Regions from separate parts of the Homo sapiens genome. Here regions 1, 3, 4, 5, 6 and 7 are each linked to region 2. The links come from fine-mapping of genetic effects on gene expression. A gene starts in region 2. Each other region holds a variant in brackets. All regions are shown on one strand. Distances are between the middles of the regions. Region 1 holds the start of LHFPL7 (LHFPL tetraspan subfamily member 7). Region 2 holds the start of GSTT2B (glutathione S-transferase theta 2B). Region 3 overlaps GSTT4 (glutathione S-transferase theta 4). Region 4 has its middle 10 kb from the start of GSTT4. Region 5 has its middle 50 kb from the start of LINC01659. Region 6 has its middle 31 kb from the start of GSTT2B. Region 7 overlaps LOC105372959 (a long non-coding RNA gene).

Region 1 (4,215 bases), 990 kb before region 2:
TCAGTCCATGTCGTTTCAAGGGCGGTAAGCCTCGCGACACCCTTACTTGATCCTCACTTTCCAAACCTTAACCCCCAACCCTAGGACACAGGATGTAGGTCTGGCCAATCAGAGCATCCCATTTGCCTGGCCACAGTGATTGATTCGTGGTAGGCATGGGACCCAAGTTTGTCCATTGAGTGTTAATCACAGCACTTGCTGCAATAGTGTGCAAAGAGAAGCTTTCTTTTCTCTGGGGTTGCTGAGTCTCGGAATGTCAGCCTGGAGCCACCAAAGGGCAATATTGTTAGAGGGAATCCACCTAGAGAGTGAAGCCAACTGAGCAGAAAACAGAACTGAGAGCTGGAGAGAGAGAGGGGTTCTGAAGACATTGCTTATTTACCTGGATCCCACTATGCCTGAAGCCCATCCCAGAGAATTTTCAGTTACGTGAACCAATACATTTCTCATGTCTATTTGAGTGGTGCTTCCATCACTTATAGCAAAAGAATACCAGGCCAGGCGCGGTGGCTCACGCTTGTAATCCCACCACTTTGGGAGGCCGAGGTGGGCAGATCACAAGGTCAGGAGATCGAGATCATCTTGGCCAACAAGGTGAAACCCTGTCTCTACTAAAAAAAAAAAAAAAAAAAAAAATACAAAAAATTAGCTGGGCATGGTGGCAGGAGCCTGTAGTCACAGCTACTCAGGAGGCTGAGGCAGGAGAATGGCGTGAACCCAGGAGACAGAGCTTGCAGTGAGCCGAGATCGCACCACTGCACTCCAGCCTGGGCGACACAGTGAGACTCTGTCTCAAAAAAAAAAAAAAAAGAATACCAGCACCTACTCTGTGCCAAGTTTTGTGGTAAGGATAAAGATATTTAAGACACAGTGCCTGACTTTGAGACGTCCACAGCTCACAGGGAAGATCCTATGAGAAATACACAGAAATATGCATATCAGTTGCCTGGGCTGGAATTATGAGGGCAGAAAGGTAGAGAACACAGTGGCAGCCACTTCTAAACTCCCAATCCCATTTCTCCTCCTGAGATTCTATCTGTGGTTTCCTACACCTGGCGTTTAATCATAGATCAGTTAATCCCTATTGGTGCCTTGCCCTACCCAGAAAACACTATACTCTCCCCTTGTCCCCACCTGGAGATGGCTTTCCCCTCTTTGCTCAGCCCACCCAGCAGCCTGGAGTGAAAGCTTTTATTTAAGGAAGTGGGAAGGAAAAACCACACACACACACACAGACACACCCTCAGACCAGTTCATCAAGCATGCCCTTGCATTGTTCTACAAGCTAAATTATTCCTTCAAAGGAGAGGAGAATTGTATAAGGTCACAGACGTGGATCCAAAGCCGGAGCCTGAGCAGAGGTGGCCACGCTGGAGGGTCTTGACCTAAAGTGTGGTGAGTCTGGAGGGACAAGTGACCTGAGGTGAGGAGTGAGGAGGGAAGGAAACTGGGATAGCACAAAGCACGTTCAGGGGCTGTTACAGGCTTCAGGGGGCCCATGAGCCTCTGAAATGACATACAATTGTGTGTGTGTGTGTGTGTGGGTGGGTGGGTGGGTGCATGTGCGCTCATGTGTGCATGCTTGCTTATGTGAGAGTGCACGTGGAAACATCCATAGTTTTGTTTTCTGGGGTTTTGTTTTTTTGTTTTTCTTTTTTTGAGACAGTCTTGCTCTGTCGCCCAGGCTGGAGTGCAGTGGTGTGATCTCGGCTCACTGCAACCTCCGCCTTCCGGGTTCAAGTGATTCTCTTGCCTCAGCCTCCCGAATAGCTGGGATTACAGGCACCCGCCACCATGCCCAGCTAAGTTTTGTATTTTTAGTAGAGACAGGGTTTTGCCATATTGGCCAGGCTGGTCTCGAACTCCTGACCTCACGTGATCCTCCCGCCTTGGCCTTGCAAAGTGCTGGGATTATAGGTGTGAGCCACCACACCTGGCCAACATCCATAGTTTTAAATCATATCTTCAAAGGAATGCATCAAAGGGTTAAGTCCCACAGACCTTCCTTTTGTAGATGGGGAACCTGAGGCTCAGAGCCGTTACATAATTTGTCCTAGGTGGCACAGCCAATCTGTGACAGATGCTGGAATAGATCCAGAAATTGGACTTACCTGGCTGCATAGCCGGGAGAATGTGATAAGAGATAAAAGTCCTTCCCAGACCCAGTTTGCCCATCTGTGCATCTCAGCCTGGACATGGCCTGCACCCCCCAGGCTGGACTGGGTGCCCTTCCTCTGTGCTTGTCCCCAGTGTCACCCCAGGCTTTTTCATGGTGTGGAGCTGTGTCTGTACT[C/G]AAGCCTGTATATATCGATTGATGGGTTGGGGAAGATACACATCTCAAGCTTTGCTTACGCAACCTCACACTCAGACACCTCCGGCTGCCCTAGTAAACATGTTCCTTCTGCAGGTTCTTCGTCCCAGGTCAAAAGCCCTAGAGGCATCCTTGCCTGTTCACCTTCCCTCACACCCCAGGCCTATTCTATTAGCAAATCTGATCAGCTTGACCTTTGCCCTTCAAAATCAATCCAGAATCTGACCACTCTTTGTCCTCCTCCCCTAACCCCACCTCCACGTCCATCCACATCCACCTTTGTCTCTTGTCTGACTGACGAGTCATCTTCTGAAGACTTCTCCCTCTGCTTCCCTTCTGCCTGTTCTCCACCCAGGAGCCAGAGTGGTCTTTTGAAAACCTAGGATGGTTCATGTCATACCCCTGCTAAAGACCAGCCATAGACTCCCTACCACACTCACAAGTGAAAAGCCAGGCTAGGCACGGTGGCTCATGCCTATAATCCCCAAACTTTGGGAGACTAAAGCAGGAGGATCTCTTGAAGCCAGGAGTTCAAGACCAGCCTAGGCGGCCAGGCGCGGTGGCTCACACCTGTAATCCCAGCACTTTGGGAGGCCAAGGCGGGCAGATCACAAGGTCAAGAGATCGACACCAGCCTAGCCAACGTGGTGAAATCCCGTCTCTACTAAAAATACAAAAATTAGCTGGGCGTGGTGGTGCGCATCTGTAGTCCCAGCTACTCAGGAGGCTGAGGCAGGAGAATTGCTTGAACCCGAGAGGCAGAGGTTGGGGTGAGCCGAGATCGCGCCATTGTACTCCAGCCTGGCGACACAGCAAGACTCGGTCTCAAAAACAAAAACAAAACAAAACAAAAAAAGACCAGTCTGGGCAACATAGAGAGACCTCACCTCATCTCTACCAAAATAAATAAATAAATAAATAAATAAATAAATAAATAGCCAGGCATGTTGGTGCATGCCTGTAGCCCCAGCTACTTGGGAGGCTGAGGTGGGAGGATTGCTTGAGCCCCAGGAGGTTGAGACTGCAGTGAGCTGTGATTGTGCCACTGCACTCCAGCCTGGGCAACAGAGCAAGACCTTATCTCTGCTACAAGGCGCACCGCTCTTTCCTACCCTCATTACTTCTAGTCACATGGGCCTCTTTGCATCTTCAAATGTGCCAAGGGCACACTCCCCTCAGGGCCTTTGCACCTGCTCCCCACTCTGCTTGGAATATTCCTCTGACACCTCTCCACGTGGCTCCCTCCATCACCTTCTTCAGGCTCAGCTCAAAGGTCACCTTCTCATGGGGCTTTCCATGACTATCCCCCAATTACCCAATCACTTGCTATCTCCCTCCAACGCTTCATTTTTCTCTAGGGCACTTATTGACATCTAACATATTACATATTGACTTGCTTATTTCCTCCCTGTCTCTCTCTCTCCCTCCAGAGTCTAAGTTCCATAAGGAGGGGCTTTTTCTATTTTCCTCACTGCTGAATCCTCCAGGACCTAGAACAGTTCCTGGAACATTGTAGACACCCAATAAATATTTGTTGAATGAGTGAGCACATGGACATATTGCTATATTTTGTTGGTCTGTCTTGCCTGCAAAACTCTAAGCTCTTTGAAGGTGGGGACTACGTTCTGTTCACCACTGTATCCTGGGGGTAGGGGGTTAAGAGATCACATTGAGCTGGGCACATTAAAGTTGAATGAATGATTGATCAACCCCTCCAATTTACAGAGAAAGACATAGAAGCCAGAAGAAGAAAGAGACTTGGCTTGACATATCAAGTCCCTAGCAGCTACCTCTAAACTCCCAGTCCCATTTCTCCTCCTGAGATTCTGCCTTTGTATGGCTTCTCTGGAATCATCCCTGTCCCCTGGGCAGGGCAGGCATGAGAGCTGACCATGCCCTAACCT
Region 2 (4,215 bases):
TTCTCTTTGTCCTTCAATGAAACCTCTGCTGATTTCCTTCGCTCATTTTTTTCCTGTGTCTTCGTCTGATGAGTTTCTCTTCTTTTTGTTTGTTCGTTTGTTTGTTTTGAGACAGTCTCGCTCAGTGGCCCGGCTGGAGTGCAGTGGTATGATCTCAGCTCACTGAAACCTCTGCCTCCAAGGTTCAAGTGATTCTCCTGTCTCAGCCTCCCGAGTGTGCCACCGCACCCAGCTAATTTTTGTATTTTTAGTAGAGACGGGGCTTCACCGTGTTGCCCAGGCTGGTCTCAAACTCCTGACCTCAACTGATCCGCCCATCTCTGCCTCCCAAAGTACAGGGATTACAGGCGTGAACCACCACACCCTACCTGTCTGATGGGTTTCTAAGAACATCTTAAAGGACATTACTTCCTTCTGACGTATCTTTTACCGAGATCCTTCCCAGTTTTTTGCTTAAGGTTAATCCATTTTTTCCTCCACAAAGTAACCTTGTATATGTATTGGTTTTTTCTTTGTTGAGTTCTCCCACTGTTCTGAGGCTTAGAAAGTCCTTTCATACCCAGACATCAGAGAAACAGATCCCGTGAGAGTAACTGGGATTGCAGGTGTGGGCCAGCATGCCCTGTTATCACTCCCTTTCTCTGAGTCAGCTTTTCTCTCTCAGTCTCGTCTACTCCTCGAACTCAGGAAATGTCACTACAGGTGGCCCCAGCTCCCGTTTACCTCCCCATAGGGAGCTCCTCTCTCCAGTTCCAGTTTCAAAACTCCCAAGGAAGCATTCTGGTTCACTCGCTTGGGCCACTGGCCAGAGGGATGGGATACTCTGAAAGATTCAGCTAGAGTCCCGGGCCCAGCCCTGGACCATCACTGTGCCCCCTGGTGAGATGCCAGGGCTGGGATTCAGGGAGAAGAAAGGAGGTTCCCGGACAGTCATTCCTGCCTCCCGCGGCTGCGGGCTCCCTGCCCCCATCCTGTGCACGAAGTGGGAGCTCCCGCTGTCTGGCAGCTCCCGCTGTCTGGCAGCAGCTGCTCTGCAGGGGACAGTCTGGACGGCAGAAAGTTCATCCTTAACCCCAGCCTTCCAGTCAAGGTTCCCACCAGTTTGGGACACCTGCAAGTGTCACATCCCACTGGGTGAAACTCTAAGATCCCTTTTAGGGGATCCCATTCGCTCCCTCCCTTCCGCCACCATGCAGCGCCGAGAAACAGAGCTCTGAACGAACCCTCAGATGTCCGTGCGCTGGGGCCTTTCCAGGACGGCGGCGCCCAGTCGTTTCTGGGTCAGGGCGACGCCTGGAACTGGGCAGGGTCCCTGGCACCGGGATCCCGAAAAGCAGACCTGCTTCTCCCTGTCCAGCCGGTTCCCCTTCCCCTTGCAGTCGGCCCCCTGCATCCGCGTCCTCCCTGCCAGTCGAGGGTCCCCAGCTCCAACTCCACCCTCCCAGCTGTGCGTTCATAGCGACCGCCCTCCCTGTAGGGACGCACGGATCTGGTGGTGGAGTCTTGGCCGGCAGGACTGGACAGGAACCGAAGGGGCGAGGCGGGTCCGGGGGTGGTGCGCTCCAATTGGGTGCTGTCCCCAGGGGGTGGGGCCTGATCCCCTATTTCCCGGCGCGCCGGGATCCTGCCACAGCTGCTGCCCACACCGCGCTCAGCGCCTTCACTGCCATCCCCGCTGTCCTTGCCGCCCCCGCCATGGGCCTAGAGCTGTTTCTTGACCTGGTGTCCCAGCCCAGCCGCGCCGTCTACATCTTCGCCAAGAAGAATGGCATCCCCTTAGAGCTGCGCACCGTGGATTTGGTCAAAGGTGGGCCCAGCCCGTTTCCCCGCGTGTCCACAAACCCAGTGCACCCCCAGGCCCCCGCCCTGCTCTGCCCTGAGCGTCTCGCCGCCCGCACAGCCCCCTCACCTCCTCCTGCAGCGTCTGCCACCAGAGAATGCTGTGGACTGAGTGGCCTTGGAGGGATCACAGCCTCTCTGAACCTTAGCTTGCCTTCTGAAAAGGAGGATAATGTTACCTTCTGCTCTGTAGGGATGGAAAGAAAATACTGAATGGAGTTGACAGAGTTCTTGCGTGGAATGCACGCATATAAATTCACAAAGCCCAGAAGACCTTGGGAAGAAGGACATGCTGTTGTGAGAATTAAGAGATGGGAAGAGATGAGCCACCCCAGTTTGCCTCCCCTCCCCTGGCCCACCAGAGTCCGGCTAGAAAACTTCTCTTTATCCACCTGCTGCACCTGGCCCCACCCACCAAAGCCCCCCAGCTGCCCCGGAATGTGGCAGGGCAGGGAGGCCCAGCCAGGGAGTGAGGCTGATCCAGGCCTCTAGTCCCAGACCTTGCTGTTTCTCAGGGCTGTGGGGCTCCGCTTGGGGAGGAGGAGGGAGGGTGTAGAGGTGCAGCGTTTTTATTCTGAAGACCTTTTCTGACTTCTTCCTCTTCAGGGCAGCACAAGAGCAAGGAGTTCTTGCAGATCAACAGCCTGGGGAAACTGCCGACGCTCAAGGATGGTGATTTCATCTTGACCGAAAGGTGCCCTCCTTCCCTCACCCCTCACCGCATCCGGAGCCCATGTGACCTTGGCTCTCCCCACTGGCCCCGGGCCCCAGTGGCCCTCCCATACCCCATGGGGCAGCGAGGGAGGGGAAAGGCGAGGGATCTGGCCGGGCGCGGTGGCTCACGCCTGTCATCCCGGCACTTCGGGAGGCCAAGGCGGGCGGATCACGAGGTCAGGAGACCGAGACCATCCTGGCTAACACCGTGAAACACCGTCTCTACTAAAAATGGAAAAAAAATTAACCGGGCGTGGTGGCGGGCGTCTGTAGTCCCAGCTACTCTGGAGGCTGAGGCAGGAGAATGGTGTGAACCCAGGAAGCGGAGCTTGCAGTGTGCTGAGATCGCGCCACTGCACTCCAGCCTGGGCGACAGAGCTAGACTCCGTCTCAAAAAGGCCGGGCGCGGTGGTTTACGCCTGTAATCCCAGCACTTTGGGAGGCCGAGGTGGGCGGATCACGAGGTCAGGAGATCGAGACCATCCTGGGTAACACGGTGAAACCCTGTCTCTACTAAAAATACAAAACATTAGCAGGGCGTGGTGGCGGCCGCCTGTAGTCCCAGCTACTGGGGAGGCTGAGGCAGGAGAATGGCGTGAACCCAGGAGGCGGAGCTTGCAATGAGCAGAGATAGCACCACTGCACTCCAGCCTGGGTGACAGAGGGAGCCCACTCCAGCCTGGGCGACAGAGGGAGACTCCGTCTCAAAAAAAAAGGAAAGAAAGAAAGGAGAGGTATCTGGGGAGAAGGTACAGCTTGGGGTGTGACCGGGATGAGCAGGGGCTGACAGAACATGTCCCCCCACCTCTCATCTTCCAGCCTTTTCTGAGCCGCAGGGCCTCTCCACTCCCAGACTGAAGGGTATTAGAAGAGAAGACAAGGGAACATTTTTCCACTGTTGCGCATTTGTTCAACAAATGCTAGCTGAAAAGAGCCTCTAGTGACTTGTTGCAGACTACCCAATCTACCCAGGCCGGGCCTAGAGGCCAATGCCATGGCCCAAGGGCACAGCTCATGGTGAGGTCCAGCTGCTGGGCAGGAAAAGGACAAGAGGTCAGGTGGCTGCAGAAGTGATGGCTGGGGGCCTGTCAGACGGGGGCCAAAGACATTCCTCCCCTCGTGATCCCTGACCCAAGCGCGTGGACATGCAAGGGACTCCACGGAGCATCCACTGTGTGCCAGCCCCATGCAGGGTTCCAGGGGTCCAGGGAGCCTATTCTGAGCTGCACCGCCTCGGACAAGTCACTTGACCATTCTGACCTTGAGTTTTCTCTTGTGCTAAAAGGCTAACAGGAGTGTCTACCTCACAGGGCGGCTGCTGGCATATCACAGAGATGAGGTTCTCAAAATGCAAAGCAGAAGGTCCAGCCAAGAGTCGGTGCCCAAGGCAACAAAGACAGGAGGAGACTCGTAGGAGGAGGGGGTGGTGTTGGGGAGCTGGAGATGGAGGGCGAGGCTGGAGGGCAGTCCTTCAAATGCAGAGAAGCCCCCGGGCCCCACTGGCAGATGGGAGCAGTTAGGGGTAAATGCCTGGTGCCAGTGTCCTTATAGCCACTGCCCATTTGTTCCCAGCTCGGCCATCCTGATTTACCTGAGCTGTAAGTACCAGACGCCGGACCACTGGTATCCATCTGACCTGCAGGCTCGTGCCCGTGTTCATGA
Region 3 (4,215 bases), 40 kb before region 2:
AGCACTTCCAGAGGCTGACACGGGAGGATCGCTTGAGGCCAGGAAGTTCAGAACTGCAGTGAACTCTGATTGCGCCACTGCACTCCAGCCTGGGCTAGGATAGAGCGTAGCATCACTACGATACCATTAAGATACCTCATAAAATTAACAATAATTCCTGGATTTCATCTAATATGTGGCTCCTGTTCAAAACTCTATGATTATCTCCTAAACATTTTCTTGGCAGTTTGTTTGGATCAGGATCCAAAGAAGTTTTTTTTTTTTTTTTTTTTGAGACGGAGTCTCGCTCTGTTGCCCAGGCTGGAGTGCAGTGGCGCTATCTTGGCTCACTGCAAGCTCCGCCTCCCGGGTTCACGCCATTCTCCTGCCTCAGCCTCCTGAGTAGCTGGGACTACAGGTGCCCGCCACCATGCCTGGCTAATTTTTTTGTATTTTTAGTAGAGACGGGGTTTCACTGTGTTAACCAGGATGGTCTCGATCTCCTGACCCCATGATCCCCCCGCCTCGGCCTCCCAGAGTGCTGGGATTACAGGCGTGAGCCACCGTGCCCAGCCAAGAAGTTCTGAGTCTTGCAGCCAGTTGCTGTCTCTCCTGCCACTTTTTAACCGATAGCTCTCTCCATGCCCTGACCTTTTTACCTTGGCATGGTTGCTGCTGGTGATGATAAAGGAGCCCTTGTTCTGCGGAGGTTCCCACACCAGCCATCAATCAGCAAGGCCTAGGACATCCCCTCCGAAGCATGTCTCCCCTCCATCCCCTTCCCTCTGTCCCCATGGCCTCCAACATTCCCAGACACCACAACCTTCCCGATAGTTGCTGGCCCCCTCATTGTCCATTCTGCCCCCTCGGGCTCACCCTCCATCCAGCACCAGAGAGATGGATCCTTTCATGCCCTGGCTTATATAATGCCTAATCTTAAGCATTAAGTCCATAACCTCCCTGCACCTCCAGGGGCTACCCTACGTGGACTCCACAGTGTCTCTGGCTGCCTCATCACTCCCCAATCACCCCCACCCTTCTTCCAGTTGCAACCCCCTACTCTCTTTTCTTCAGATTTACCTTGCTCCCTTTACCCTCGTATTTCAGCATGTGTTTTTCTTTGTTGGTTTTTTGAGACAGAGTCTTGCTCTGTGGCCCAGGCTGGAGTACAGTGGCACAATCTTGGCTCACTACAACCTCTGCCTCCCAGGTTCAAGTGACTCCCGTGCCTCAGCTTCCCAAGTAGCTGGGATTACAGGTGTGTGCCACCACAACTAGCTAATTTTTGTATTTTCATTTTAGTAGAGACAGGGTTTCACCATGTTGGCCAGGCTGGTCTCCAACTCCTGGCCTCAAGGGATCTGCCCCCATTGGCCTCCCAAAGTGCCGGGATTACAGGTGTGAGCCATCGTGCCCCCCCGTTTTTGTTTTTGAAAAAGGATCTTGATCTTTCACCCAAGCTGGAGTGCAGTGGTGTGATCTTGGCTCACAGTAGCCCCAAATTCCTGGGATCAAGTGATCCTCCCACCTCAGCATCCCAATTCAACACGTGTTGTTCCCCCTGCTGGCCTACTCTTTGTTATACCACCAGCCCCCAACTCCTACTCACCCCGCAGGGCTCCTTCCCAGCCCTTACTGACTGTCAGACAGACAGCTCTGGTGAAGGTCTTTCTCGGGGCCGTTTGGGCTCCTCTTTGCTCTGGAAGCCCCAGCAGTTGGGCCCAGGCCACACCGGGGTGGTTGATGTAGTGGCACTCAGGAAGGCAAGGGCAGTGCCCCTGACCGGCCCCTTCTGCAGCGCGGCCATCCTTTACTACCTGTGCCGCAAGTACAGCGCACCATCGCACTGGTGCCCGCCAGACCCGCACGCACGTGCCCGTGTGGATGAGTTC[G/A]TGGCTTGGCAACACACGGCCTTTCAGCTGCCCATGAAGAAGATAGTCTGGCTCAAGGTGAGCAGGGCCACTTCTGGGGCTTGGGGACACGGGCACAGGGAAGTCAGGAAGGCTGGAGGCCAGTTCTGGCCCTGCTGACTGCCGGCGACCTCAAGCAAGTCTCCCTCCCTCTCTGGGCCTCATTTCCTCAGCTCCTTCTCCTGCCCGCCTTACAGAGCCGTCAGGAGTGTGGACTGAAACAATGGGCATGAAAGAGTCTTATTAGGGCGAGGGGAAGGGCATACGGGAGGGGCTGATGTGACTCACCCAGGACAGCATTCGAGGCATTTCATTCTGAACTAGAGAATCTCAGCGTCAAAAGGCCCACAGAAGGCCGGGTACGGTGGCTCACAACTGTAATCCCAGTACTTTGGGAGGCCGAGGCGGGCAGATCACTTGAGGTCAGGAGTTCAAGACCTACCTTGCCAACATTGTGAAACACCATCTCTACTAAAAATACAAAATTATTAGCTGGGTGTGGTGATGGGCACCTGTAATCCCAGCTACTCAGGACGCTGAGGCAGGACAATTGCTTGAACCCAGGAGTTGGAGTTGGCAGTGAGCCAAGATTGTGCCACTGCACTCCAGCCTGGGCGACAGAGTGAGACTCCATCTCAAAAAACAAAAACAAAAAAGAGTATGGCCTATAGAAAATTAGAAGATGACAAATAACCAGTACATGTGTCTCTACTTTGAATTCTATGCCTGTGACAGACATCACTAATCAATCACAGGACTTATGCCTGCTGAGCTCCCCAAATCCTTGTGAACACATGGTTCCCAGCAACTTCCACCAATCAGAACTGCTAAAAGAGGTGAAACTGCTTTATATCCTGGGAAGTGTTCAATATCTATCCAGCAGACAAGAGTACAGAGACCTGGCAGGGCAGGTGGCCCTGGAGTGCAGCCTCCTCTTCCCTCCTCTTCCCAACCCTGGCCAGTTGCTGATCCCAAAGATAACAGGGGAGGAAGTTTCAGCTGAGAAGATGGAGCATGCAGTGGAAGAGGTGAAGAACAGCCTGCAGCTCTTTGAGGAGTATTTTCTGCAGGATAAGATGTTCATCACCGGGAACCAAATCTCACTGGCTGACCTGGTGGCCGTGGTGGAGATGATGCAGGTGTGGAGTGGATTGGAGGAGGGTTAGACCCTGGGCAGAGGTAGGACTCCTCTGTGACCAATGGGGCCATCACTTGAGGATAGGCTGGTGAGGCGGGAAAGGCAGGCAGAGCTGCCATGGGGGCTGCGGGAACCAGGCCTGGGGGCCTGGACTCAATCGGGGCAACAGGAAGCACAGAATGTTATGAATCAGGAAGGATCACAGTTCTCCACACTTGACAAAGATTCTTCGGTGTGGGAGGACCCGGAGGGTGAGCCTGGGATAGAGAAGAACACTGCATTTCCTGCTCAATCCACCGGCATCCCAGATACCTCCTCCTCTTGCTGGACTCTCCAGGAAATGTTCACTGGCTTCCTGGGTGTCCTTCTGGCCCTGCCTGTTTCCCAGAGCTCCAGACAGACAGCTCTGGAGGACAGCTCTCGTGGCTGGGTCTGAGGGGCATCCACTGTGCATTTGGAGGCACACCTGAGTGTGGGGCATTTATGTGGCCTCTACATGCAGGGGAGGGTGACCAGTTCTGCTTGTCAAGACACTGGCCAGGGTCTCAACTGGCCATCCTGCACACCAGCTAGGGCACTGCACACTGACCAAAGAGACTAATTTGCATATCAGCCAGAGATATGCCCGAGAGGAGGGACCTGGGGTCCTGGTGGATTGACCAGAAAATGCAGTATTCTTTTCCTTATCCCAGAGATCTCTGGCTGATATGAAAATTAGTCTCCTTGGTCTGTTTGCAGGGCAGACCAGCACCAGGAAAAATCATTCTGGCCTGCCCCAAGGGTTCAGCCATATGCTTCGTCCCCACCCCTTACATTTCACCCACACACACCCATTCTTGGGCTTCCCAAAGATCTTGGGTGCAAACCAAACTCTTAGTAAGCCAGCGAAACTGCAGGGTAGACTGCCCGCCAGGTCTCCCATCCTAGCCCCTGAGCTTGATCACAGTGGGAGGCTAAACATGGAGGAAAAAACCTGAGTTCTCTCCCTCATCCACATATACACACCTGGGATAAGGGGTCTCCCTGGAAGAAGGCAGGATTCATGCGAGGTCGCAGGCTGGAGAAGTGGGAAGTGCCTGGGCCAGGAGCCCTCTCAGCATGGTTCAGAAGGCTTGGAGCAAGAAGACCAGTGACTGAGGACTCTGAGGGATTCTGGATCCTCCATCCCCACCTACATCTATTACATAG
Region 4 (4,215 bases), 35 kb before region 2:
TTCACCAAGAAAGAAAGTGGAGGCTGGGTGCAATGGCTCACACCTGCAATCCCAGCACTTTGGAAAGCAGAGGCAGAAGGATCACTTGAGGCCAGGAGATTGAGAACAGCCTGGGTAACACAATGAGACTTTTTTCTAAAAAATATATTTTTTAAAAAAATTAGCTTGGTGTGGTGGTGCAAGCCTGTAGTCTTAGCTAACTGGGTGGCCGAGGTGGGAGGATCACTCGAGTCCAAGAGTTCAAGGTTACACCGAGCTATGATTGCACCACTGCACTCCAGCCTGGGCACATAGAAGAACCTTATCTCAAAAAACAAACAAAAACAAAAATGAAAAAATGAAATGGAAACCAGAAAGAAAGAAAATGGAGACATCACATTGGTCATAGAGAAATTCAAAAGTTTAGAAATACTATGAATAACTATATGTGGACAATTTAGACAACCTAGATGAAATGGGAAAATTTTAGAAACACACAATCTACCAAAACTGACTTAAGAAGAAAGATAAAATTTTAATAGGCCTGTAACAAATAAAGAGATTAAAATATTAATTATTTTTAAAAATTCCACAAAGAAAAGCCCAGGACCAGATGGCTTCCCTGGTGAATTCAACCAAAAGCTTGAAGAACTAACACAAAGCCTTCACAAACTCTTCCAAAAAAATAAAACAGGAAGAAATATTTTTCAACTCATACTATGAGGCCAGAATTACTCTGATACCAAAGACAGAAAAAGACATTACAAGAAAATAAAGTTACAAAGCAATATCCTTATAAATATAGATGTAAAAATCCTCAGCAAAATATTAGCAAATCAAATCCAGCAGCATATTAAAAGGATCATACACCTTGACCAGGTAGGATTTATCCCAGGAGTACAAATGCAGTTCAACATACAAAAATCAATCAGTGTAGCATACCATGTTAATAGAAAGTCACATGATCATCCTAATGCACAGAAGGCATTTGACAAAACCTAACATCCTTTTACGATAAAATTACTCAGCAGATGAAGACGAGAAAGGAACTTCCTCAACTTGACAAAAAGCATCTATGAAAAACCTATAACTAACACCATACTTCATCCATTGTGAAAGATCAAGCGTTTCCCCCCTAAGATCAGGAACAGGACAAGAATGTTCATTCACACTACTTCTACTTATTAGGGCAATTAGGCAAGAAAAAGGAACAAGGTGGAATCTAGATCAGAAAGAAAGAAGTAAAACCATCTCTATTCACAGATGACATTACAGAAATTCTTAACTCACTTAAAAACCATTAGAGCTAATAAACAAGTTCAAGGCTGGGCACGGTGGCTCACACCTGTAATCCCAGCACTTTGGGAGGCCAAGGCGGGCAGATCATGAGGTCAGAAGTTTGAGACCAGCCTGTCCAATATGGTGAAACCCCGTCTCTACTAAAAATACAAAAATTAGCCGGGCGTGGTGGCGCATGCCTGTAGTCCCAGCTACTCAGGAGGCAAAGGCAGGAGAATCACCAGAGCCCAGGAGGTGGAGGTTGCAGTGTGCCAAGATCAAGCCACTGCACTCCAGCCTGGGTGACTGACTGAGACTCCATCTCAATAAAATAAAATAAGTTCAGCAAGGTTGCAGGGTACAAGATTAATACACAAAAATCAATAGTATACATTTGCAATAAAGGATGAAAAACAAAATTAAAACCACACTTCCATTTATAATACCATCAAAAAGAATAAAATAGAATAAATTTAACCAAAGAAAAGCAACATTTCAACACAGCAAACTACAATGTGCTGTTGAAAGAAATTAAAGAAG[C/T]GCCACCAAGCAATCTGACCTGAGAAAACATGCAGGTTCAACAGAATGAGTCCTGCTCTTCAGCAAGCACCCATCTTGTGTTCAAGCTGGGTCTATGAGGCAAGTTTGGCAACATAGACATGGACATGCCACCAAATCTGTAATGTAGAAAAGGCCAAGGGAAGGTGGATCAATCATTGGAAACATTCAACAATCCATGGAAGAAATGTTAAAAATAGAATCTCAGGGTCTGATGAAGTTGGAATATCACTCTTCTATGTATTTCGGTTGGAATCTGTTGAACGATTGGATAAAGTAAAAGTATAGGGAATTATTAGGTAGCATTAAATGTGTAATAAATGTAAAGAGAGGGTGCAAGTGCATACAAGGAAGTGTACGCTACTGGGTTTCTGTTGAATTGTTCATGGAAGACCATCAGCAGTTCAATTCCAAAAGCTTGTCTTAAAATTAGCTGGGTGTGGTGGCGTATGCCTGTAATCCCAGCTACTCAGGAGGCTGAGGCAGGAGAATCGCTTGAATCCGGGAAGCAGAGATTGCAGTGAGCCAAGATCGCACCACTGTACTCCAGCCTGGTGACAGAGCGATACTCTGACTCAAAAAAAAAACAAACAAACAAAAAAAAAACTTGTCTTGAGGGACTACGCCAGCCTTAACAGCTACAAACATCATGGAGGAAGCTGTCTGCCCATTAGAAGCCCAGAGCCCAGAGGGACAGACTAGAGCAAATCCTCTCCCTCATTGGAGCTAGATGGGAACACAAATCTATCTGATAACTAACATGCAATTTTACATCTCTTACCTTGTTTAATCCTCACAACCACCCTGATGAGTAGTAGTATTATGCCCATTTTGTAGATGAAGAAACAAGTTCTTCAAGGGGAAGGGTAGCATATGAATGAGAGGCAGAACCAGAGTCAGGACCTATATCTTGTCTTCTCCTTCCTAAAACTAGAAAAGTACCCACAACCAGGCAATGCGTTTGGTGCAGAAAAAGCAGTAGTGAACAAAATAGGCAAAAATGTCTGCCTTTAGTGCTCACATTGTTGTGGAGAAAGACAAACAATAAGCACAGTAGAGAAGTAAAAATTAGAATGTTTTGCTAAAAAGTCCATAAAATTGAATATTATTCAGCCATAAGAAGGGATGAAGTACCGTTATATGCTACAACATGGATGAACCTTGACACCATTATGCTAAATGAAAGAAGCCAGTCATAAAAGGCCACATATTTCATTATTACATTTGAATGAAATCTCCAGAATAGGCAGCTACTTCCTATCCACAGAGGTAGAAAGTAGATGAATGGTAACCAGGGGCTAGGGGAAGAGGGGAATGGGGAGTGACTCTTTATTGGGTACAGAGTTTCTTTTTGGGTGATGAAAATGATCTAGAATTAGATAACTGTGATGGTGACAAAACTTTGTTAATATACTAAAAACCACTGAATTGGCTTTAAACCAATTGAATTTTAAAGTATACTTTGAAAGGGTGGATATTATGGTATGGGAATTATATCTGATAATGAAAATATGATTACATTGTTCAAAAGCATAGGGAAGAAGCTACAAAAAATATGAAGCATAAATTGTGGCTCTTTTTTATTCTGAAGTGTAAATTTGAACATTATATCTCAAAATATAAAACAAAAACAAAGAAAGCTAAAAGCCCTTCCATTTGGCCATCTTGGAGTAAGACCTACCACAGTCCAGTGCCTTTTACTCAGCCCCACAGCCTAGCCTATTGTTTACATGAAACCCTGTAGCTTCCACCCCTGTTTGACTGTTGGGTGTAAAGTTATGAGTGACCATATTGGGGGAAGGGAGGAAAACTCCCCATAAACGTGTATCCTGGGGGCCTGAGGAGAGACGATGGCCCAGGTATCAGAACATGATATGCCTACTTGTCCCTATCTCCTTGTCCACACATAAGGCTTGGAAGGCAGCCATGTTGTATATCACGTGATCGCCAACCAATGAGCTGATTGGCTTCTTCAACAAGAGCCCAGGTAGAGATTGGTGTCTAGAGGAGCCCATCAGTTTCTAGAGAATCAGGCCTTTGGCAGTGGAAACTCCCCTGGGAGGATGTCACAGGGTCCTCAGGGTCAGACACAGAGAGAAGGAGACATTGGGACAGAGAGAAGAGGCAAGAAAAAAACATACCTTGCAGTCTGTGAGGAACAAGGTGGCCCCTAGGGGCCTCCAGCCCAGGTTCTGAATCAAAGCTCCTCAAAGTTTAAGGTGCATTTGGATCACCTGAGGATCTTATGAAAATAAACTCTGTCTGATTCAGTAGGTCTGGGTTTGGGGGTGGGAGCCTGTTAGTATATTTCTAACAAGCTCCCAGGCAAGGCTGCTACTGCTGCTGATCTAATGACCACAGTTTGAGGCTGGACAGAGTGGCTCACACCTGTAATCCCAA
Region 5 (4,215 bases), 580 kb after region 2:
GGACAGGGCAGGGGAGGGATCTCAGCGCTGGCCTTCTGGGGCCCTGCGTCCACTCTGCCCCTTTCTGACCTGGGCTGGGGCCTCTGCTCTCCTCCGGGCCTGGAGACAGAGCCCTTTTGGAGGCCCTCAGGCCCGACAAGCCTGTTCCTTGGAGCCAGGCTGTGGGCTGGGTGTATTCTGGTGGGATGGGGGATCTGGGGCATGGGGTGGGAGTGGGGCTGGGAGTAGGTTGAGGTTGGTGCCTCAGGCTCTGTGGAATGGGACTGGGATGGCTGCAGACCCTGGGCTTTGGGGTCTGAGCCCAGCCCTGTCCCCAGGCAGGCTGCCCCCTGCAGCCCTGGATTCCCATGTTGGTTGGAGTTGCGATGAGAGGTTCTGGGGCCTCCTTTGCTTCTGTCCAGGACACACAGCTGAGAAGTCACGGTCTGCTGCCTGACTGTGGGGGTTTCAAGCCCCACTGGAGCATCCAGGCAGGCCCTTGGGCGGCAGGGCCTCGTGGGGGCAGGAGGGGACCCTGGGAAGTCGGGAACCAGGCCAGGGAGGGAGAGAAGGCAGGAGCACAGTTGTGGGTGTAGGCACCCACCCCGTCCCGAACGATGTTCCTCCCGGCCCACCCCACTCCAGTCCTCTGGGCCGGCTGCCAGAGGGTGCTGCTTGAGGCCACTTGCTTCCTCAGAAGAAGGTCTCACCTTCAGAGCCAGCCTTTGAGCTCCTGGTGACCTCAGCCTGTTGCCCTTGACCCTGAGTTTGCCTAGATCAAGTGGGAGGCCACTCTTTGGGCCTCAGTTCTCCCGTTCCCAGGGAGCAGGTCCTCTGTCCCCTGACAGCACCCCTCCTCGCTGTGCAGCCACCACTGCCAGGTTTCTGACTAGGCAGTGTTCCCCAGGGGGTGGCTCTGGGCCCTCAGGCAAACAGCCACGCTGGGAGGGGCGGTGGTTTGCACGTGAATAGTGTCACTCGGGTCCTTTGCTTGAAGTTGGCTCTGCTGAGTGCAGCCTGCAGACATTTTCAGGAAACTCAGTCCACAGGCTGGAGGCTTCTGCTTCCCCACAACCCAAACGGCCTCCAGCCAGCCAGAGAGCCATGAGAATCCAGCCACTAGCAACTGCCAGCAGGAAACCCACTACCAGCTGCTCACAGATGGACAGCCCATCCCGGTAGCTGGCCCCACCTCCCCGCCCCTCTGCTGACCAACCCAGCAGCTCCTTGGGTGGGTGTGGCCACCCTGCTGCCCCCACCTGCTCCCGGACCCTGTGCCAGGCGGTGCCTTGCCTCAGCGGGGCCTCGCCTCCCCCAGAGCCGCTCTGCTGCCTGACCTTGTGATATCTTGGGTCCTCTGGGCACTGGCGCAATTGGGTGGGGTCAGCTTTGGCCAGCAAGTGGGGGGCAGGTGGGTAAATCCTCCCTCTCTGCCATCTCCACTTCCTTCCTCCTACCCGGCTTCCCTGCCTTTTCCCCACTCTGGCTCCAGGGTTGCACTTCTCAGAAAGCTGTCGCTGCCCGGCTGCGCACAGGCCTGATTTTCTTGGGAGTCTGGGCTAAGATTCTGACTGGCCCTCCCACTTACCACCCACACCACCACGCAGCTAGCCAGTAACAGGGCCAGGAGTGATCAGGAGGGGGCCCACCTGACCACCCGCCCGGCGCCTCCAGCTGGCCAACTCTGCCCGCTCAGGGCCATGAGCTGGAGGTGCCAGGAGCCTCCCGGGAGGCAGTGTGAGGCATTCTTCTTAGTAAGTCCCGCATCGATGATAAAGGGCAGTATCAGCCCCTCTCTGATGCGCAGTGAGCGGCTCACCATACAGGGGAGGCGTTTAATTTATCTCGGGAACTGGGCGCAAGTTATAAAAATGGTAATTTCTTGGAGATTCAATTACGTGTTTTCATTGTTACCCTCGGTAATCAAGGAAACAATTTTTTATAAAAGGCTGTTGGATGATACTGATCTCAGGAGAGGATCTGGGCCGGGTGGGGGCTTTGGGAATGAAGAGGAGGGCAGTGTCTGCTGGGGGCAGGCAGGGCAAGTGGAGCTGAGCCGTCCAGCCCACCAGCTGTTCCAGCCCTCCAATTCCTCCATTCCTCTCTGGCCTCAGTCTTCCCTTATGCCGATGGGGCCATCTCTGGTAGGGAGGGTCTGGCAGGAGCTGATGAAGTGAGGCATGGCTCCTGGGCCGTGAGGGTGGCTGTGAGGGTAGCTGCGTCCCTGCCCCTCCCTGCCTGGTGCCCGAGCAGTCT[C/T]GTCCATCTCCTGAGGCCTCTGCAGGGCATAGAGAGGGGTTCCTCATGGAGTGCGGACCTGATTTTTTTCCCCAAGTGATGTCTTGGCTCTAAATAACATCTCCAGGATTAATGGTGCCAGCCCCCAACAGCACCAGGTGATTGAAAAAATGGTTTTATGGCCCCGTGGGTGAAATTCAACTTGCATCTGAGGTGTATTTCCAAGATGGGATTTTCCTCCCTGGGAGAGGCGGCACATTCCACACTAATTATAATGGCAGCTCCTCGACATTCATCACCCATAGTGGGGGGGACACCTGTCTGGGGCACAGGGGCAGGGTGTCCCTGGGGTAACCTCCAGGTCTCCTAATCTCAGCAGACTCTGGGGGGCTGGTTCTAGGAGATGCGCCCTCACGCAGTGCAGGGCCAGGGGAGGGGGAGGCGGGAGCCCCCAGGAAATGAACAAACTCTAGCTGGGCTGCGCCAGGGAGGAGGCTGGAAGGAGGCCCCAGGCTGAGGGTAGGACCCGGCTAGTGCTTGCCCAGGGACCCACAGGCCCCTTGCTGAGCAGACTCCAGCGAGGGGCCTGGCCCATCTTGTTGCAAGAGGCTGGAGTCCTGGGCTGAGCTGGGCAGTTGACCTTGGATCTGACTGTCTCCCCTGAAATTCCTTTTACCCCAACTCAGGCTCCTGCAGTCCCGCACAGCGCCCAGCCAGGATGGGCAGGAGGAAGCCCTTCCTCCGACGGGCCCTCACCGCACCCTGCCTGAGGGGCCTTGAGCCCCAGGGCTCTTGTCTCAGCACTTGGCCGTGGAGATTCGGGAACTATGGGAGTTTGGGGGATCTCGGTGGCTGAGGGCTGTGCTCATGAAGGACTCCTTGAGTTTGGAAGATGAGGCTCACCTTCTGCACAGCCAATAGGTCATTGTCATGGGAACACTGACCACCAGCACCAACCTCCATCCCCCGCCGGGGGCACGTGCCTTTATCACCCATTTCCTAGGTGAGTACAGGGGCTCAAAAAGGGGCAGGGTTCCTGAGGTCACACAGCAGGTGAGCAACAGAGCCAGTGAGGGCCTGGGGGTGTCCTGCCAGGGGCTGAGGTGTGCCCACATGCAAGAATCCAGGGGTCCGTGGGCCAGGGCCCTGCCAAGAGTTGGGGGCTGAGGGAGGGAAGGGGGCATTGCCAACCCTGCAGCCCCTGCCGTGGGGGGTAGAAGAGAGATGCCCCTCTGGGGGCCCGAGGGCAGGGTGGGCCCATGCCGTTCCCTCCCACCTGCCACAGGTGAACCTGACAGGAGTGGGGATGGAGCCTGGCATCCCAAGGGAACCTCCTGGAGTAATCACTCCACATGCTTGCAGTAAATATTGGGCCCTTCTTCCCCTCCCAGTAAATGAACTTATTTACTTTTAACTAAGATTAAATGTTCTCTGTGAGTTCAAGATACTGACTGCCCTGTCAGGCTCAGTCCACGCTCTGCTCTTCCTGCCTCTGGGGGCCACCCCCAGGCAGGGAGGGACCAGGCAGCCCTGGGGAAGCAGAGAAGTTGTTTCTCCAGGAAACTCCAGGAGGAGAATCCATTTACATCATCACCACTGTCACCATGAGCACGGCCATAACCACCATCATGGCCAGCTCCACCAGCACCCCATCACCACCAGCACCGGCATCATCACCACCACCACCACCACCACCACCATCACTACCAGCACCATCACCTCCACCACAATCAACACCATCACTGTAACCACAACTTCCATCACCACCACCATTACCCTCACCATCCCCACCATCACCATCACCATCAGTACCACCACATAACCTCTATTTTGACCACCACCATCACCACCACCACCACCATCACCATGATCACCAGCATCACCACCACCACCATCACCATGACTACCATCATCACCACCACAGCCTCCATCACCTCCACCATCACCACCCCCATCACCGCTTCCACACCACCACCGCCAGTAACACCACCTCCATCACTA
Region 6 (4,215 bases), 31 kb after region 2:
AATGACAGGGATGCATTCTGAGAAATGCATCTTTAGGTACTTTTGTCGTTGTGTAGACATCACAGAGTGTACTTACACAGACCTAGATGATATAGCCTACTACACACCTAGGCTATATTGTGTAGCCCACCTGCTCCTAGGCTACAAACCCATACAGCATGTTAGTATACTGAATAATGTACATGGTGTAACACAATGATAAGTATTTTCTTTTACTTATATCTTGCATTGTAGGATTTATCACAAAATGTTACTGCCCAGTGCATTTTTGCAAACAATAACAATTCACTGAGGGTATTAACATTCACATATGTAATTAGAGTTTACAAATGCACCAAACTTTGGGTAACAAACACTTTAAACTTGTTTTTTTAGACATTCAGTAAGCCCTTTCTCCCCCCTCCCCAAACCGTTTGATTACAAAGAAGCACAATGGGTTAACTGTGGCAAAACATAAGAAATAAGGCAGGGGAGGCAGGTGCAGCCTTGACAACATAAGAATATCCAAACAATGTTGTCAATATCAAAAGAAAAAATCAAAACATCTTTTATAATATAAAATAAATCCATATAATTAAGTACTAATTAGGTGAAATAACATTATAGGGTATATAACGTTTATTTTCTCTATTTAAATTTGCATATCTTAAATTTATTTGTTTTTATTTTATTTTTTCCTGAGATGGAGTCTCACTCTGTCACCCAGGCTAGAGTGTAGTGGCACAATCTCAGCTCACTGCAACCTCTGCCTCCTGGGTTCAAGAAATTCTCCTGCCTCAGCCTCCTGAATAGCTGGGATTACAGGCGTGCACTACCATGCCCAGCTAATTTTTACATTTTTAGTAGAGATGGGGTTTCATCATGTTGGCCAGGCTGGTCTCCAACTCCTGACCTCATGATCCATCTGCCTTGGCCTCCCAAAGTGCTGGGATTACAGGCATGAGCCACCTCGCCAAGCTGCATATCTTAAATTTAATGTGAAACATCATGTTTCAACTTCGACTTAAGAATATCATGACATACAGTTTTTGGTGAGTCTAGATGTAATGGAATGAATATTTAAATAGACTTCAAAGATTTTATCAAGGTTGTATTTGGTTATCATTGCTTTAAGTCTTTAATGCTTTTCTTTCTTTATTGGACTAAGCCAATTTTAGAAACAAAATCCACAACCAACACACATACAATGCCGATGTTTCTGAAAAAACTAAATAGTATTATGTTTAGTATATCATTAAAATAGTGATTGTGGTTAAACAAACAAGCAAACAAACAAATTACTGCAACTCATAGATGATAAACTTATAGAAAGCAACATTTTAGAAGTTCCATCTGGTGTGTTTGCACTGTAAGAAAATAAATCTGGATATGAGTATGTAGGGTCCAGCCCTACAGGGTCAGTGAGTTTTCTCCTCATGTGTGGAGATGAGAGAGTGTAGAAATAAAGACACAAGACAAAGAGATAAGAGAAAAGACAGCTGGGCCCAGGGGACCACTACCACCAAGATGCAGAAACCGGTAGTGGCCCCAAATGCCAGGCTGTGTTGATATTTATTGGATACAAGACAAAGGGGTAGGGTAAGGAGTGTGAGCCATCTCCAATAATAGGTAAGGTCACGTGGGTCATGTGTCCACTGGACAGGGGGTCCTTCCCTCCCTGGCAGCCGAGGCAGAGAGAGAGAGAGGAGAAAGAGAGAGAGAGCTTACACCATTATTTCTGCTATCAGAGACTTTTAGTACTTTCACTAATTTGCTACTGCTATCCAAAAGGCAGAGCCAGGTGTACAGGATGGAACATGAAGGTGGACTAGGAGCATGAC[C/G]ACTGAAGCACAGCATCACAGGGAGACAGTTAGGCCTCCGGATAACTGCAGGCGGGCCTGACTGATGTCAGGCCCTCCACAAGAGGTGGAGGAGTAGAGTCTTCTCTAAAATCCCCTGGGGAAAGGGAGACTCCCTTTCCCGGTCTGCTAAGTAGCAGGTGTTTTTCCTTGACACTGACGCTACCGCTAGACCAGGGTCTGCTTGGCAACGGGCATCTTCCCAGATGCTGGCGCTACTGCTGGACAAAGGAGCCCTCTGGTGGCCCTGTCCGGGCATAACAGAAAGCTCGCACTCGTCTTCTGGTCACTTCTCACTATGTTCCCTCAGCTCCTATCTCTGTATGGCCTGGTTTTTCCTAGGTTATGATTGTAGAGCAAGAATTATTATAATATTGGAATAAAGAATAATTGCTGCAAACTAATGATTAATGATATATATATAATCATATCTAAGATCTATATCTAGTATAACTATTCTTATTTTATATATTTTATTATACTGGAACAGCTCGTGCCCTCGGTTTCTTGCCTCGGCACCTGGGTGGCTTGCCACCCGCATGAGTAAGATGTGCTTGACTGAATAAATGAGATCCCCAGCTAGCACTGGGCTATGTTCCAGAGCAGTGCATCTGTCCTAATATGTTACATCAGGAATGTTTGTTCACAATCCACCAGCTGCAGGTTTTCATTTACTAAGAATTGAAAGCAATTAATCCTGGTCCATCCACTCCTTCCTCCGTTGTTTTACTATCTTTGCTTTGAGATCAGGTACTTTGTGCCCAGGATTGTGGCAATGCATGTTTACTAAAAATGCATCCATTGATGGTAGAATAATTGTACTAAATTAATAAAGGAAGAGAGTGTCTTCATGTAGAAAACAGAGCACTAAATTATAATTTTACAGTCACAGCACAAGCTCCAGCTCTTCCTAGGCACAGTGGAGCAACCCGGGTCCACTCTTTGTCTGGGATCATGAGCCTCCACTGTATTCAGGTATGCCTGTCCATCATACCTCCCAACAGCATAAAACTTATCAACAAGTAAACAGACCTCCACTGCATCTCTGCTGATGCTCATTGATTCTACTGTAGTCCACATGTCTGTTTTGGGATCAGATGTCTCCACACAATCTGAGAGTCTGGAAGTCAAGTTGGATGTGAGAGCATCATGTTCCCCTATAGCATACAGCAGTCCGCTCCGGGTCGTTACTCCTATGCCACCTCTCCTTTTTGACATCCGTGCACACAGTGTCCATGTTGGGGTGATCAGGCCTAACACCAGGCCGTGGGGGCTACAAAGTCTGGCGGGGTCAGAGGAATGTGAAAAGATAAGTTAAAAGTGCATAAAGTGGGTCCGGGGGGCCGGCACTAGATTGAAGGCTGCAAAGGCCCCGAGCTCTGGGAGCCCACACTATTTATTGGTGATCAAACAAAGAAGCAGGTGGTGAGGATGTGAGGGTAAACAGGTGAGGGCATGAGAACGTGGGGATAGAAAGCTAGTGGTGCATTAAGCGTAGCTGTGACAGCTTAGCACTTCCTTTGATGCATGTAGAATATGCTCTGCTACTTGAGATAATGGAGGACATGTTTACGAGTAAGAAGCAAGGAACCAACAAGTCTGTGCACATTCCAGAGGCTATGAGGAGTTTTATGCCCTGAGCCCTGGGTTCCATCCAAGCCACACGGGGTTTTATGCCCTGGGCTTAGATTTGTGTTGCGGCAGGGCAGCCTTCCACCCTATGGCACAGAGCTTGGTGTACCAAAGGCCATGAGGGGTTTTAGGCCGTGGACCCCGGACATCTTTCAAGACTCTTTTACATTATGACAGACAAGCCAGTCCTGCCTCAGCTCTTCTACCAACAGTCCACTCACTAGTATGAGGATCAAAACATTCTACTGATTTGAGACAAGAACTTGCATCACCACCACCAACTGCATTAAGTTTTCCACTTAGCACTGCCACACCAACTGTGCTCCTAGGAGTAGACACAGTGGCAACAAAATTCCACTGGCGAGCCTGAGGGTCCCAAATTTCCGCTGTGTTCAGATGGCCCCAGCCCTCATGCCCTCCTACGGCATACATGGGACCTTCCAGTACAGCCACACCAAGGCCATGTCTATGTGTGGACATAGGTGGCACCACACTCCCTGTTTTTGTTTTGGGGTTGTAGCACTCTACAGTATTCAAAGTCTTCAGTCCATCTCTTCCTCCAACCACATACGGTTTGTCATCTAGCACTGCGACACCAAACTGTAGCCTCCTCTCATTCATATTTGCTACTGGAGTTCATGTATTTGTACAGAGGTCATACTTTTCAATGCTTGTTGCTCCTTTTGTTGAATCCATTCTCCCAACTGCAAATAATGTACCAACAGTTGATTTCCTAGATTTTGCC
Region 7 (4,215 bases), 48 kb before region 2:
ATCACCAAAAAATCTCAAAATGTTGTAAGAAAGTTTATGAATTTGTGTTGAGCCGCATTCAAAGCCAAGCAGACCAGCGCGTTGGAGAAACTTGACTTAGAGGGAACCAGGGAGGAGGAGCATCCTCATTCATTATATTACCTGTGCCTCTCTTTCCAAAAAGGATGTGAAGCCCAAAAGGAACAGATACAATAGGATATTGAAACAAAAGGAAAAAAAGGAACAAAACCTAGTAAATGAACAAGAAGAGGGGTCATGGGTGGTGTCAGAATTCCAGAGATGAAAAAAGGCGACAGAGTTGAAGGGGTTCTGTCAAGGGTCTTGGGCTGAAAGATGGTACTCTCTTGGGAGCTAGAATAACAATAAAGCATTGTAGGGAAGAACTTTACACTGTGGTTGAATTCATAGCTGCTTGAGTCTTGCACAGATGATTCAAATAGGAGTGAATGTTGGGGGCTTTTTAACCTCAAAGACAGTAACAGCATGGTGAAAAACTCAGTTCAGTACAATAAAGCTATACTGATAAGCTAGAAGTTCTGAAAATTGTTGAGTCACCAACCTTGACTTTGAGTATTGGGGTAAACAGTATTTGGGGGGTAAACAGAAGCATAAACAGATGGTTTCAAAGCTGCATGGATAACCTTCAGCCTCGGATACAGCTTCCACTCAAGCCTTATCATGAAAGATGCGCTGGAGAGAAACAGTTGAAAATAGGTGGGAAGGGTGGTCCAAGCAGCAAGAAAGTTGTGTGGGGAAGGTCCGGAGGTGAGAAACATGCAGATCATGCTGGAGTGTCATGCAGCACAGTGTTACCGTGAGGCAAAGCTCAGGGCCACAGTGGGGAGAGAGCACTCTGGAGAGTTAGGAAGAGGCCAGTCCAAACAAGCAAGCAGAAAACATATTGTTGCAGTCTTGCCCGTGCACCACAATGTACCAGTCTCTCATTGTGGGGTATCACCCAGAATTCTTTGTCTCACGACCAAGAAAATTAGGGAGTGTGGACACAAAGGGTAAGGTTGAAGCAAAAGTTTAATAAGCAAATGAAGAAAGCTCATTGCAGCTGGCGGGGGGCCCAAGCAGGTTGCCCATTATGAGGCTGGGTCAGGGGGTTTTATGGACTGGGAAAGGAAGGAATGTACTGACTGGTCTTGGAGAAAGCACTACTCAGCTTGGCCCCTGGACCTTGAGGGACCAATCAGGAGCTGAAGTGATAGCCTGGCCCAGGACCAATCAGAGGCTCACATTCTAAAGCACGTCCAAGAAAGGAAAGTGCCCACTGGAACCCACTGTAGCCCACCGTGTACATGTCCACAAAAGGAGAAGAGACTATTTCCTGGAAGCCCACTGGTTATACAAAGGACAAAGGCATTTCTATGCTGGGTCTTGTTCCCTTATCAAAGTAGCTGTGGGCATGCCTTAGGCACAAAGATCAAAGGTGTTTCTGTGTTGGGCATTGTTCCTTTATCTGAGTGAGCCAGAGGTTTGTGCAAGTTTCCTTATCTGTGCCTGAAGCCTGATTTTTCAGGCTGTTCCTCTGTTTAAAGGAGTTTTACCAAGGACCCACCTTAATTACCTAACTTTTCTCTCTCAATATCACTCTCACTACACTGAGGATGGCAGATTTAACATGGGGAATCTATATCAAAGACTGTGGCCTTATGGTCTTGGTGAGAGTTAGGCCTGAATCCCATCCATGGTGACCGCAACGATTCATT[C/T]ATATCCAATGCAAGCATTCCCTGAGGCACTCTGGGAAGCAGGACACCATGAAACACACTGGCAGAGGAATGAGTGCAAAATACTTGGGTCAGGGGTCCAGGGGAAGGAACTCCAAGGTCTAGCTATCAATGAAAGTCCTTAGCAGTGGTTAGGTACAAACACACCAGGCACAGGCATATTCCATTAGAAATTGATTTTATTAACTACATAGACTGCACAGACTGAAAATCTGAATTTGGTGTTTCACTGGTACGCTAAAGATAAGGATCATCAAAGGTTTATGCAGGGAAACAGTGACCACCACGGTGTCCAAGGGTCATTAGAGGAAAATTCTGCATGGAACATGTGGAAAGCTACAGAAATGGAGACTCCCTATAGGCTCCCCCACACCACCCCTACATACTTTGACATTCAACAGACTGATAGGATATTTAGATAAGAGGGTGGGGACCTCATTCATTCAGTTTCAATGCAGTTTCGGCGCTGACATTGCATTTCCAGGTTTGGCATTCTGGGACATGGGTTTTACAAGGTGCCTAGCTACAGAGAATTATCAGCAAGAGTTAACAGAGAAGATGAAGTTCTCTGCCCAGGAATGCCCAGAGAAAGTCCCTGAAGACAAATCTGCCCTGTGCTCTGGCCCACTACAGCAGACTATGGAGAGGAAACAGCTCAGAACTAGTGGAGAAGGGCTGAGCAACTCCTGGAGGTCCAGAATTCTGGGGAGGGCAGGTGAGAGGAGCAGCAATGGGGCTTGAGCTCTTCCTGGACCTGACACACTATCCACTTTTGCAAGACAGAATGACATCCCTTTTGAGCTGTGGATGGTGGAGTTGGCTTGGGGTGAGCCAGGTGGCTGGGCTGGGCCCCATGGAGTGGGTGCCAAGGACCAGGCCCTACACTGAGCCTTCTCTCCTTTCTGCCCACCAAGGGAGCACCTGAAGCCTGAGTTCCTGAAGGTGAACCCCCTGGGGAAGGTGCCTGCCCTCAGAGATGGCGACTTCCTACTAGCAAAGAGGTAATGGTGACCTGGTGCCCACCCAGGGTCAGAGCCAGGATCTGCCTGGGTTCTGGGGCTCAGAGTTGTAGGGGGAGGCAGAGGCGAGAGGGGAGATCTTTCCTTGGCTTGGAGATCTTTCCAAATCACTGAGGCCCCTTCCTCATTTCAGCCTGTGTAGCTCCGATGCAGAGGCTGGACCCAGGGGCACCTTTGGGCTAAAGCTGGAGGCTGGAACCTGGCTAGAGTCTGAGCCAGCTGGAGCTGCCCAGGTGGGGAAAGGACGTAGGTCACCCGGATAAACCTGGACAACCTGAAGCCAGCGGGCAAGGCCCAGGCTTGAGGCTGGCTCCTCCCCAAATGTCCCCAGCTCATCCTTTCAGAGTCCTAGGAGCTGGGCAGACCCAGGGGAGACTCCACATTCAATCCCAGCTCACCACTTCCTCAATCCATGCCCTTGGGGAAATCACAGAACTTTGTGTGCCAGGTTTCTCCTCTGTAAAACGGAGTGGGAGGAATAATGTATCCACCTCCCAGGGCTTACCTGAGGATAGAAAATGGGCACCTAGTGTTCTGGGGCACTAGGAAGGGAACTTGGAGACCTTTTGGGCAGGGCCCACACGGCAGGCACTCTGAGTGGGGACCCTGATGCCAGGGAGTGGGGCCTGGGCACAGAGGGCAGGATGGTATGGTAACTGGGAGGGGAGGTGGAAACATGGGCCCAGGGAGGATCAGAGTTGGAAATGGAGAAACAGAGTGGTTTGGTCGTGGGGAGATACTGCCTGGAGGGAGTTGCAGTATAGGGGAGGTCCTCCCCTGAAGGTGAAGGTGGGGAGAAAACCTGGTCAAATCACCCTGAGTATGAGCAATGAAGCCACCTGGCCCTGACAGGCTGGAGAAAAGATCTCTGACACCCCCTGCCCACAGCATGGTCATCGTTTTATACCTGAGTCGAAAGTACCAGATACGGGGACACTGGTACCCACCTGAGCTGCAAGCCCGCACCTGCGTGGATGAGTACTTGGCGTGGAAGCATGTCACCATCCAGCTGCCTGCCACCAATGTCTACCTGTGCAAGGTGAGCTTCCTAGGCCCTGTCATGCAGGCTGGGGCAGGGGCCTGGACCCCCAGAGATGGAAGGCACCAGTTGGTACATATTACATATTAGCTTCACTTCCACTGTCCTCAGCAGACATAACTAATCTATCACAGTACTCCTTCCCCTAAGCCTGAATGAATCCTTAGAAACCTTCTGAACACAGAGCCCCAGAGGACATCACTAATGAGTGGCAGCCGGGAAGGGATGGAGAGGAGGCCCAAGAGGCTTCCAAGAGTCTGGGTTAAGTTGCTCCTCTCCTCCCAGCCCAGTCTCTCCTGCCCCACTTCTCCGGACAGCCTGCAGATGCTGCACAGCTGGAGCGGCTGTTGGGGAGGCTGATGCCAGCCCTGCAGCACCTGGATTGGGGGGTGCTGGTGGCCAGGCCCTTCCTGGCAATGGAGCA

The links. PIP is the estimated chance that this variant, and not a neighbour inherited with it, causes the effect.
Region 1: its variant is fine-mapped to the expression of GSTT2B in prostate (GTEx, PIP above 0.99).
Region 3: its variant is fine-mapped to the expression of GSTT2B in subcutaneous fat (GTEx, PIP 0.98).
Region 4: its variant is fine-mapped to the expression of GSTT2B in subcutaneous fat (GTEx, PIP above 0.99).
Region 5: its variant is fine-mapped to the expression of GSTT2B in transverse colon (GTEx, PIP 0.99).
Region 6: its variant is fine-mapped to the expression of GSTT2B in esophagus muscle (GTEx, PIP above 0.99).
Region 7: its variant is fine-mapped to the expression of GSTT2B in lung (TOPMed, PIP above 0.99). The same link has a PIP of 0.9 or more in hippocampus and ovary.

Annotation. Positions count from the first base shown.
Region 1 is chr22:24,943,752-24,947,966 of GRCh38, reverse strand. It overlaps LHFPL7 (LHFPL tetraspan subfamily member 7), which reads left to right and starts at 1,273. Exons shown (of 4, transcript NM_001388199.1): 1 at 1,273-1,395. The variant C/G (reference allele first, on the strand shown) is at 2,294.
Region 2 is chr22:23,958,612-23,962,826 of GRCh38, reverse strand. GSTT2B (glutathione S-transferase theta 2B) reads left to right here and starts at 1,632. Exons shown (of 5, transcript NM_001080843.4): 1 at 1,632-1,807; 2 at 2,446-2,533; 3 at 4,126-4,215. The coding sequence starts at 1,696. RefSeq lists an enhancer at 2,746-3,411.
Region 3 is chr22:23,998,888-24,003,102 of GRCh38, reverse strand. It overlaps GSTT4 (glutathione S-transferase theta 4), which reads left to right. Exons shown (of 5, transcript NM_001358664.2): 3 at 1,778-1,928; 4 at 2,852-3,028. Among named protein-coding and RNA genes, the nearest start is that of GSTT4, 4.5 kb to the left of the region's middle. The variant G/A (reference allele first, on the strand shown) is at 1,872.
Region 4 is chr22:23,993,329-23,997,543 of GRCh38, reverse strand. It overlaps a transcript of GSTT4 not described here. Among named protein-coding and RNA genes, the nearest start is that of GSTT4, 10 kb to the left of the region's middle. The variant C/T (reference allele first, on the strand shown) is at 1,798.
Region 5 is chr22:23,380,965-23,385,179 of GRCh38, reverse strand. It overlaps the pseudogene CES5AP1. Among named protein-coding and RNA genes, the nearest start is that of LINC01659, 50 kb to the left of the region's middle. The variant C/T (reference allele first, on the strand shown) is at 2,236.
Region 6 is chr22:23,928,073-23,932,287 of GRCh38, reverse strand. It overlaps the pseudogene KLHL5P1. Among named protein-coding and RNA genes, the nearest start is that of GSTT2B, 31 kb to the left of the region's middle. The variant C/G (reference allele first, on the strand shown) is at 1,821.
Region 7 is chr22:24,006,547-24,010,761 of GRCh38, reverse strand. It overlaps LOC105372959 (a long non-coding RNA gene), which reads right to left. Exons shown (of 2, transcript XR_001755457.1): 2 at 1,895-4,215. Among named protein-coding and RNA genes, the nearest start is that of CABIN1, 2.6 kb to the left of the region's middle. The variant C/T (reference allele first, on the strand shown) is at 1,716.